2 separate regions of the Homo sapiens genome follow, and region 1 is linked to region 2. The links come from fine-mapping of genetic effects on plasma protein levels. A gene starts in region 2. The other region holds a variant in brackets. All regions are shown on one strand. Distances are between the middles of the regions. Region 1 overlaps PIK3AP1 (phosphoinositide-3-kinase adaptor protein 1). Region 2 holds the start of PIK3AP1 (phosphoinositide-3-kinase adaptor protein 1).

What was found. PIP is the chance, under the fine-mapping model, that this variant and not a neighbour inherited with it causes the effect. Protein levels are from antibody-based Olink assays in UK Biobank. Linkage for the fine-mapping came from a reference panel and not from the study's own genotypes, which makes the PIPs less certain.
Region 1: its variant is fine-mapped to the plasma level of the PIK3AP1 protein (UK Biobank, PIP above 0.99). The variant lies in the coding sequence of PIK3AP1. If it changes the protein, the assay may bind it differently, which can mimic a change of level.

What each region holds. Positions count from the first base shown.
Region 1 is chr10:96,617,496-96,622,867 of GRCh38, reverse strand. PIK3AP1 (phosphoinositide-3-kinase adaptor protein 1) reads left to right here. Exons shown (of 17, transcript NM_152309.3): 12 at 2,311-2,516. It also overlaps the pseudogene RNA5SP324 and the pseudogene RPS2P36. Among named protein-coding and RNA genes, the nearest start is that of TM9SF3, 33 kb to the right of the region's middle. RefSeq lists a silencer at 230-451. The variant A/G (reference allele first, on the strand shown) is at 2,488.
Region 2 is chr10:96,716,697-96,722,024 of GRCh38, reverse strand. It overlaps PIK3AP1 (phosphoinositide-3-kinase adaptor protein 1), which reads left to right and starts at 1,511. Exons shown (of 17, transcript NM_152309.3): 1 at 1,511-1,643. The coding sequence starts at 1,631. RefSeq lists enhancers at 920-1,029, 1,880-1,989 and silencers at 1,150-1,449, 1,500-1,749.

The sequences.
Region 1 (5,372 bases), 99 kb after region 2:
GGGGAACAACTTGGAAGTCTTATTTTTCTAAACAGTTTTAAAGGAAGTTTGAGGAGCTAAGTGCTCTTTTCTCTTGATTAATTTCCTTGTGCTAAACAGAAACACTCAGTATTATCCCATTGAGGATTCTTTTGAAAAGTAGCCATGACACCATCTAAGCATTTGAAGGCATCCCCCAAAGGGCTCTGGTAGTAGGAAACTGGAACTGGTTGGCTTGTGCATTTTGTTTTTTCCTCCACTGTGTCTCCCAATACCATTAAAGAGAGCCTTGACAAGGGCAGACCTGGGAGAAGGATGTGTGGGTGTGTGCGGACAGATAAGTGAATGGTTGGGCAGAATGATAGATAAACGTCTCTGAGGCTTTTTCAGTACTCACCGGTGCAGCCATTTCTCTTTTTTCTTCATGTTATGTCCCTGAGTCACAATGCCCAAATGGAGTCCTGCTGGAGAAATTTAGATCCAAATAGCCTTGTATGAATTGAGTGAAACGTCAAGTTGCCTCAGTGGCCCCATGGTCGCTGCGAGTAGCTCATTCCCCACAGAACTGAAGTCACAGCCTGTAGAGAGATGAGGGTTGGCTTCATATTTCTCCAGAAGCTCCAAAGCAGAGAACTGTGAATTTGTAATGTAGAAGAGAGGTTGGCACAGGAACAACCCAAGGGTAGCCAGCTGGAAGCCAGCACCTACTTTATACCTGATGCTGTTGGGCCTGTGTCAGGATTCCACTGATGTTCCAGTCTCCTGGGGCATTTCATGCCCATGGGTCCACAATCACTGTGCCTCATGCTGCTTAGAGACAGTGAGGGATGAGAGTGGGGCTAAGAGAAGCATCCTGGCTAAACTCTTCCAGTGTATTCTCTTCTGGGTATGGATTTAAGTCTAAAGCAGTGGTTCTCAATTGGAAGTGATTTTGTACCCCCTCCCTAAAGAACATTTGGCAATATAAGGGAATTTTGGTTGTCACAACTCAAGAAGGGGGTGCTGCTAGCATTTAATGGGTAGAAGCCAGGGATGCTGCTGAACATCCTACAATACACAGGACACACCCACACAGTAAGGAATTACCTGGCCCAAAATGTCAATAGTGCCAAGGTTGAGAAATACTTGTCTAAAGGCGTCTCAATAATTAAGGCTTGGCTGCTTCTTCAAGAAAACACCAAATGGTGGATGATGCTGATGCAGTGGGAGGGCCTGGGGGTCCTGGAATGGCAGGCTGCGATGGCCTCCCTGGAGGCTTTGGCAGTGACATCAGGCCAAGGTTGTGGCTGTGGCTGGGGCCAAGGCTCTGGAGCTCATAGAGGTAAGTCTGAGAACAAGGAGTCGACGCCTATCACTAAGTTAAACCATCTGGCCAAAGATGTGAAGATCAAGTCCTGGGAGAGCTGTCTTCTCTCTGCCCATCAAGGTGTCTGAGATCATTGACCTTTTCCTGGAGTCGTCTCTCAAGAATGGGGTTCTGAAGATTATGCTGGCACAGAAGTTGACCCATGCTGGCCATTTCACCAGGTTCAAGGTGTTTGTTGCCTTTGAGGACTACAATGGCCATGTTGTCTGGGTATTAAGCACTCCAAGGGGGTAGCCACTACCATCCAACGGGCCATCATCCCAGCCAAGCTCTCCATTGGACCCGCACAGAGAGGCTACAGGGGGAACAAGATCAGCAAGCCCCACACCAGCCTTTGCAACGTGACAGGCCACTGGCTCTGTGCTGGTGTGTGTGCCTCATCCCTGCCCCCAGGGGCACTAAGCATCATCTTGGCCTCTGTGCCCAAGAAGCTGCTGCTGATGGCTGCTACGCCTTGGCCAGGGACCGCACTGCCACCCTGGGCCACCTTTGATGCCATCTCTAAGACTGCTAGCAACTGGATCCCTGACCTCTGGAAAGAGACTGTATTCACCAAGTTTCCCTACCAGGAATTCACTGACCATCTCTCAAGACCCACACCAGAGTCTCTAAGCAGAAGACGCAGGTTCCAGCTGTGGCTACAACGTACGGTTTTCTTACCAGAAAAATGAAATGAATGAAGCCTGTTAAAAATAATAATAATAGTTAAGACTTGGGAGAGTCAGCAGATTTCACGCCTCCCTTAAATGTTGCAGCCTTGTCTACTTCAGTGTGATAGGCCTTGGAATTATTAGCTGCATTCTTCTCCCCTGATTTTATGTTGTATCTCCCCCTTCTTGGCCACATGTAATTGTTCTTTTGAGAAGAGTCCTCTTGAGCCTGTGACCAGCCTCATTAACCGTACACTTCTGGTGAGTGGTCCCCAGTGGGGGAGCTGTCAAGCTGAGTTTTGCCATCCTTTCCAGGGCCGCCCGTCAGACCATGGAGGGACAGGCCCCAGTCGAGTATATATGACCCTTTTGCGGGAATGAAAACGCCAGGCCAGCGGCAGCTTATCACCCTCCAGGAGCAGGTGAAGCTGGGCATTGTCAACGTGGATGAGGCTGTGCTCCACTTCAAAGAGTGGCAGCTCAACCAGAAGA[A/G]ACGATCGGAGTCCTTTCGTTTCCAGCAGGTAACTAGCTTCGTATGGAATTTGTTTCATGTCTATTTCCCCACTTGACAGTAGAGGAGGGCTGGGCCATGGCTGTCTTGTGTATTGCTGTACCTGGACACCTGTGGCTGTGCCTGCGAATGTTTGAGTTTCATTGTGAACCAGTGAGTGTGTATGAGTGTCACCTCGGTCTGTAACCACATGGCTCCCTGGCTGAGAGCTGGGTAGCTTTTCCAGGTACCATGAGGCTTGAGATCAGGAACAAAGACTCAACTACAAACACTAACTCTGCTGCTGTGTCTCTCTGCATTTGGCTCCCTGCTTCTGCTTTCCAGCTTTTTTCTTTTCAGAGTCTCTCTCTCTCTATTCCTACTGCCAAATACCCTCATAACTATCACACTTTATGACTCAAAGAGAACTTGGAAAACTCCCAAGAAATATGATTAAATGAACAAAACAAGTTGCAGATACAAAACCACCCAAATTAAAACAACTCAGACACGTCCACACACAAACTCTGTATTTCTATGGACATGTATATAAATGCAAGGACAAAGATCTGGAAACGGCCACTTCGGGCCCATTCCAGGGGCCACCTCTCAGGAGAAGACTGGGATTGGAGGACTGGGGTGTCAGAGGAGACTCTTGCTCTACCTGTATAGTTTGAAGCTTTTATGAGAATATATAACTCCATACCTGTATCATAAGTGTACATGATGTATAATTAAAAACAAAAAAAGAACTCAAACTTAACCTTAGGAAGCTCATTCTTAGTCCACCAATGCCTTTGTATTAAAAAGGAGGAAATGGGGCTCAGGAGGTTAAGGGACACGTCCAAGGCATCTTTCCTAGTGAGGGGCCGAGTCAGGACTGGAACTATTGCTTTCTCTCTCCACCTCCCCAGGCTGCTTCCTTCAAAGTACTAGCCAGGCCCGACCCTGCTTACCCTCAGAGATCAGATGGGATTGGGCGCGTTCAGGGTGTTATGGCTATAGACCCTGGTGGTGTGTATTCTAATCTCTGTTCTTACGCTATCTGACATACCAGCTGTCAAGGCGGGGAGTAAGCAGCACCCGTCCAGGGCTGAGATAGGAGCCTGTCTTCTGGGACAGGATTAGTGGTGAAGAGTGGGGAAGCATGTCATCAGGCCGCATTTGCTGACCTCCGACAGTGCTATGTTAGGCATTGTGCTCAGCGTTAAATAGACCTGATCTCTTTCACTCCTCATACACGCATATGAAATAAGTATTACTCCTCCTGTTCTACAGAAAACTGAGGCTCAGAGAGGCGAAGAGGCAGTCAAGGTTCAAACCTCCCCTTTCTCACCCCAGAGCCTGTGCTCCCTTCACTATGCCTTCTGCCTTTTTAGTGCTCCTTAAGACAGGGGCACCTGCTCTGCCAGCTGCCTCCCTCCCTTTTGGGGCCTGAAGGGTGGGAGGGCACTCTGGAGAGCTGAATGCAGGAATCACGGGTGCTTTTCACTCAGGAGCCCCTGGGAGGCTGCAGTCCTGCTGAGAAAAGGCTGGCCCTGGCTAAACAATGTTTTTTTGCTCCTTGCCAAGTTGTGCAACCACGTGGCACAGTAGTTAAGAACAGCCAGGGCTCTAGAGCTGGCAGCCTGAATTTACATCTTTATTCTGCTATTTGATGACCTTGACCTTGCTGTGCCTCATATGAAAGGGGAGGACTAGGTGATATAAGCTACTGTAAGCAGCATAACTGGTACGTAGTAAATACATAATAAATGTTAGCTCTCTTTCTTTTTTTCTTTTTTTTTTTTTTTACATTTTCTTGTAGTGTAAGGTAATTGCTAATATGAGGTATAATCTGTAAGCAATTAATACAAATATAAATAGGTATAAGCCACCACTAACTCAGTCTGCTGGAAAGCTTCTCAGCTAAAGTAGTTTGAGGATAAGGTTAAGGGAAATGAGAAGGGGTGGACAGGGCAGGTTTCCAGTGGGAACATAATTTACGTGTCTTATCATTACCATCATCCTGTATGTACCAGTCCATTGTTGCAGAAAGGTAAATCCTTTCCAAGTATGGTTTTTTTGTTATCGTTGTTGTTGTTATACTTTAAGTTCTAGGGTACATGTGCACAACGTGCAGGTTTTTTACATAGGTATACATGTGCCATGTCTTTCTGTGTTTCTATCCAAGAGACCTCTTCCCTTCCCATGAGCTGGTCCAGAACTCTTGGGCATAGCAGACGACGGGTTTATATTTAATACGGCAGAATCCCAGCTCATGGGGGCTCACATTGTTTGGTTCCCTGAGAGCCTCTAGCCACTTCCTGAGCATCTCCCCTTCAGGGGCTGGTGGTGTGGAGACATTCCTGGGTGGAGGCCTCATCTTCCTTTTCCTCTGCCTCTCTGTCCACTCCTCTGTCTCCTTCACGTCACCCTCTCACAATGGACATTGAAGCTTTCCTTCAGCTCCTTCTCTGTGCAGTCTGTGTCTCCAGTTCCATGTTTCCAGCCCCAGTTGGCTTTGTCCCCCTGAGTGCCCCAGGCTCACAGCATGTCTAACAACAAACCATCCCTCAAGGCCGCTTTCCTTTCCCAACAGCCTCTCTGTGCTCATCACAGAGGAGAGGGAGATCAGACCTCAGAGTCTCTTTGGCCTTCTCCCGTGCTTCCGCTCACCCAGTCAGCGGTGTGTCCTGCTTGGTCCTGCTCTGCGGCATTTGTCCTCTTGCATCTGCTCCTGTCTCTCCATTCCCCCAGCCACATCCCCATGTCAGCTTCTGTTGCCTGCATCTGGCATACTCCATAGTCTCCAGGAAGGTCTGCTGGCCTCTGTTCCTTCTTCTCTAGTTCACTAGAACCTTAAATCCATGACAAGCTCACAGTGTTCAGTGTTTCCCTGCTGTCT
Region 2 (5,328 bases):
TACAGGCGCCCGCCACTACGCCCGGCTAATTTTTTGTATTTTTAGTAGCGACGGGGTTTCACCGTTTTAGCTGGGATGGTCTCGATCTCCTGACCTCGTGATCCGCCCGCCTCGGCCTCCCAAAGTGCTGGGATTACAGGCGTGAGCCACCGCGCCCGGCCACTAGGATCCTTAAAACTGGAAGAGGGAGACAGAAGAGAGTCAGAGAAAGGGATATGATGACAGAAGCAGGGCCATCTGGCTTTGAAGATAGAACAAGGAGGCCATGAGCCAAGGAATGTGGATGGCTTCTAGAAGCTGAAAGAGCCAAGGAAATTGATTCCCTTCTATTTGGCAGAAAGAAACCCAGCCCAGCCACCACCTTGATTTTAGCCGATGGAGACTCATGTCACACTTCTGAGCTACAGAACTGTAAAATGATAAGTTGGTGTTGTTTTAAGCCACTAAATTTGTAGTAATTTATTATGGCAACAGAAGAAAATGAATGCACGGCCTCATCCTGATATTCCCGTTCTTAAATCCATTTCATTTTATTTCCACCTGGACTTCAGCCCTAACCTTGCCTCATCTCTGCTCTCTGGGTCCATCTTCTGGCCCCTGGATTGTTGAGAACTCCAAGGGGATGTGCTATTCAGTTGAATTTCGGCAGCAGGCAAAGGGAGGAGTCCAAGAAGAGGGCAGGTGAAGGCAAGGGTTAAGCAAGAGTTCTAGCTCTGGAAGCAGACTGGCTTGGTACTGAACCTCCGGGAGCTTTTGTTCTCTGTGGAAGCCTGAGCAAGGTATTTGGCTTGTTTCTTTGGCTCCAATGTAAAGACAGTGATAGGTGCTACCTCAGAAGGTTGCTGTGAGGATGCAATGCGATAATGTGTGTAAGGTGCTAAACGCAGCGCCCAGCAGACAGGAACACAGGAAATGAATGGCAGAGAAACTCTATTAGACATTTATCATGTGACATTATAATTAATGTTCATGTGCCATCAGGAGACCAGATCCAAGGAACGGCAGAAAGATCACAGGAGGGCACTCAAGGGCAACGCCGAGCACCCAGGGCCAGGTGCCCAGCCCTCCTCCTCTTCCCCTTCCTGTCCCCTCCCCTTTCCTGCTGGGGCAGCAGGGGCTTAGGGACAAAGCCCCAGGCGATGAGGAGGTGGCTTGGACAGCTGGTGCTCACACACACACACACCCCCGCCCTGTCTCCCAGAGGCCTGGCAGCCCCACACTCTCCCCCTCCGCCTCCTCCCCACACCCCCTCCACCTCGGGCTGCCCTTTGGTGGCAGATCAGGGCTGGTTTCCCGAGGAGTGGGGCGCACGTGGCGCGAAGCCCCCGCCTTCTCGCTGCCCCTGAGCAGGGGGCCGTGGGGGGAGCTGGCCGGCGGCCGGCATGGGGTTCTCACTTCCCCTCCCCAACGGCCGCGGGTGCAGGTGCCGCGGGCCGAGTCCCGCAGGCGGGGCGGACTCTGTGGACACGCCCTCGTGGCGAGGCCGGGCTGCCCTGAGGGAGGAAGCGCCAGAGCGGCGGCCGGTCCCGCGCGGAGCCCGGCGCCCCTCCAGCCCGAGCCAGGACGCCGCCGGCCCCGGTCCCGGCCCCGGGCACGCAGCGAGCCAGGGATGTGAGCGGCGCCCCGCGGCATGGCAGCCTCAGGTGGGTAGGCAGGCGCCGCGGGTCCCCGGGCTCCCGGCCCCTCTCTCGTACCCCGCATCCCTTGAGGCGCGCTCCCCCGCTTGCTTCTGTTTGCGTCCTCTGTGCGGGGATCTTGCCCTCTTTCTGCTCTTTTCTATGTTCCCTGTCGCAAACTTCCCACTCCAACTTTCCCACGTTTCCCGTCCCAGCCTGTGGCGCGATTCTCTTCAGCCCCTGCCTGGCCCGACCCCCTCCCACTTCTTCAGGGTCTCCTTCGCTCCCTCCACCTCTGGCCCTAGGAGTGTCTGAGCGTCGCTTCCCCTGTCCCTCCGACTCTGAAGCGAGAGGCGAGTTGAGAGAAGCGGAGGGCGGGCGATGTGGATGGTCTACAGGGCCAAACGCGTCTCCTGGGCTCCGTGGACCCACAGGGGGCGCTCAGGCAGTCCTAGGTGGTGCGGAGAGATCAGCCGGGGAGGCCCTTGGGACAGTTCCCCAAGCCCCGTTCCTCCACCCCTCCCAGGCTTTGTGTTTTGGGTCTAGAACTTTGCTAGGGATCTAGGAACACTATTCCTTGAACTTTACTTTTCCTGCGTCCTTTGCAGAACTTTGGGGAATGGGGAGAGTTGGCGGTCACTGGGTAAATGTACTCATCAAAGGGTGCCAAGCGTCTTTTCTGGCTGGTCTTGGGTTGCCTTCTGGTTCATGGGTGTACACACTTGGCAAGTCGCTCACTGACGGAGATCCAGGACAAGCCACATAATGATGATAACGGAGACAATTAATGAGTCCTTACTATTGCACTCCAATGGATACTGTGCACCTAATATGTTCTCCATGGTGGGCAGGAAACACCTAGTCTCTGCTCTCCAGGAGTTTATGGTCCTGTAGAGGAAAGCAATAAGTAAACAAGGAATTACTAGATGAGAGGAGGTAGAGTTACAGTGTTTACAAATGGGTTTACTTGTATTTTCCCAGCCCACTTTATGATGTTTTAGTAGGGATAACCTGTGAAAACAGGTTGCAGGTGCCCCTTGAAAAAGAAAATCTAGGTGGCCAGGAGAAGGCACTGTTCTTACAGGAGGTGAGCAAACACTGGAATGAAGAGCCAGCTCTCCCCAGATCCTCTGAGGGTCTGGTAAGGGTGCTTCGGAAGCAGAGGTAGAAAAGGCCAGGAGTGATTGTTCCATGTACTACAGGCTCATTAAAGGGGATGGGAAGGTAGTTAATCACAGCCTCCTGGCTCTCCAGCTGGGCTCTGGAGGCTAAAAGAAGCTGTGTTGTGAATAAGGAGGCCTAGTAATAGCAGGTAATATACACTTAATAAGGAAAATCTCTGGTATGACATGTGTTATGGGAAAACGATAAAGAAGGGTGAGGGAGACTGGGGTTAGGATTTTCAAATGAGGTGGCCAGGGTGGAGAAAGGCACATTTGAGCCAAGATTTCCAGGGGGAGGAGGCTCTTTGGGGAAGAGTGCTCCAAGCAATGAGTGTATGTGGTGCGTTAAAGGAAAGGGAGTAGGCCAGAGTGGCTGGAGTAGGTGGGCTGTGGGGGAGAGGGAGATGAGGCCAGATAATAAACCAGTGAAGCCGCCTCCTCCTTCCATGGTCAGGAACAGGCCCTGGGCTGCTGAGTCCAGGAAACCGCAAACTGGGAGGGCCTTTGGGTGGAAGAGTCTGAGAAAATGGCCTCTCTTTTCCTCTTTTCCAGCGTCCTGTGTACCTCTCTCCAGTGGACACAGCCGAAGGAGCTAGGAAGGCGAGCTCCAGTTCAGAGGGGGACCCTAGTCCGGTGGGCAAACCTGGGGCTATTTATGGGCTCTGTAGCAGCTTCTGCAGGTGTTTGTAATGGTTAGAGCTGTCAAACTGTCTTGCTGTCTGCGTCTTCTGTGGCGAGACACCACTCCAGGTGCTGTAATTGAGAGTTGGGTCTCTGGAGTCCCTCGGGTTCCCTGAGGTTTGGAAGTACAAGGACCCATGGGGGAAGATCACAGTGGTGAGAGCAATGCCGCTCGCCAAGGTGCTGTGGGCTTTGGAGTCATCCAGCCACCCTTCTGTATGTTCTTCTTTTCTTTTAAAAGCAGCTTTATTGTGATATAATTCACATGCCATACAATTCATCCATTTAAAGCATACAATTCAGTGGTTTTTAGTATCTTTACAGATATGTGTAGCCATCACCACAGTCAATTTTGGGACATTTTCATCACCTCAGAAAGAAACCTTGTATGCTTTAGGTATCAACCTTTTATTCTCCTCTCCTCTCCCAGCCCTAAGATCTACTTTGCCTCTATAGATTTCTCTACTCTGGGCTTGTATATGAATGGAATCACATAGTATGTGGTCTTTGGTGACTGGCTTCCTTTGTACAGCATAATATTTTCAAAGTTCATCCCACTGTAGCTTATATCAGTACTTCGTTCCTTTTTATGGCCTAATTCTTAAATTCCCTTCCACTGAAGGGGAAGCATTAGTCTATATTGTTTTCTGAAAGATGTCTGCTTGTTGAAATCCAGGAGAAGTTAGGCTCCCTGTCTTTGAAAGGACCTTGGGTAGGAAGATAAAATGAAATGGACTTGGCCTATTCCACAAAATTCTCTAGGCCCCTGATGGCATCTTGTGTATTTACACGTGAGAGAGAGGAAAGAGAGGATCCGTGAGTGACTTTCCCAAGTGGCCAAGTCTGTGGCTGGGTGAAGAAAGACTAGTACTCTCTCCTCTGTGTATCAGCTCTCATACCGTCTCTTGCCCCCTCTCTCCAAGGCTCTTCTCTTTAGATCCTTCTACTATTCCTGGACTTACAGGACCATGGAGCTTGAAGGGACTTTTAACCTTTTTGTGACCTTAACTTCCATGTGATCCTTGAGGCCTCTCAATACTCTTGCCAGTACCTAAATTTGAACAACTTCTGGGGTGGGAAGCTCCTGATATGATTGACCACATCTCTCCTTATCCTGGTCACCTTCCCTATCTCTCATCCCTCTTCAAATATGGTGTTCAGATTCAAACATGGGGCTCCAGGATGGATGAATGGGGTGCCAGAGTCACCTATAGGCTGAAGAAATGGTCTGGGCTGGGTGGTTTGAGAAGCTTTCTGGCACTTCCTGTCTGTACTTCTCTCCAGTGAGTTTTTTTTTTTTTTTTTTTGAGACGGAGTCTCACTCTGTCACCCAGGCTGGAGTGCAGTGACACGATCTTGGCTCACTGCAAACTCTGCCTCCCAGGTTGAAGTGATTCTCGTGCCTCAGCCTCCCGAGTAGCTGGGATTACAGGTGCCCACCACCATACTCAGCTAATTTTTGTATTTTTAGTAGAGACAGGGTTTCACCATGCCAGGCTGGTCTTGAACTCCTGGCCTCAAGTGATCTGCCCTCCTTAGCCTCCCAAAGTGCTGGGATTACAGGTGTGAGCCACCACGCTCGGCCCTCCATTGGGCTCTGAATCCTGCAAAGGCACCTCTCTTTCAGCCCCAGCTTTTCACCCCATGGACTCCCTGCTGCTACAGCCTCCCCTTCCTCTGCTGTGATCCATTTCTTTCTCCTTCTGTAGCCAAACCTGTTCTTGACGTTTTACGAGGACAAAGAAAGACCCTTCCTCATTTCTTTCTAGGGCTTGTAGACTCCTTGTTAGCTCATGTGTTTCATTTCTCTTAATAAATGAACAAGCAAAAAAAAAGAGAGATGTGATTGAGGATAAGTGGAAAAGCTA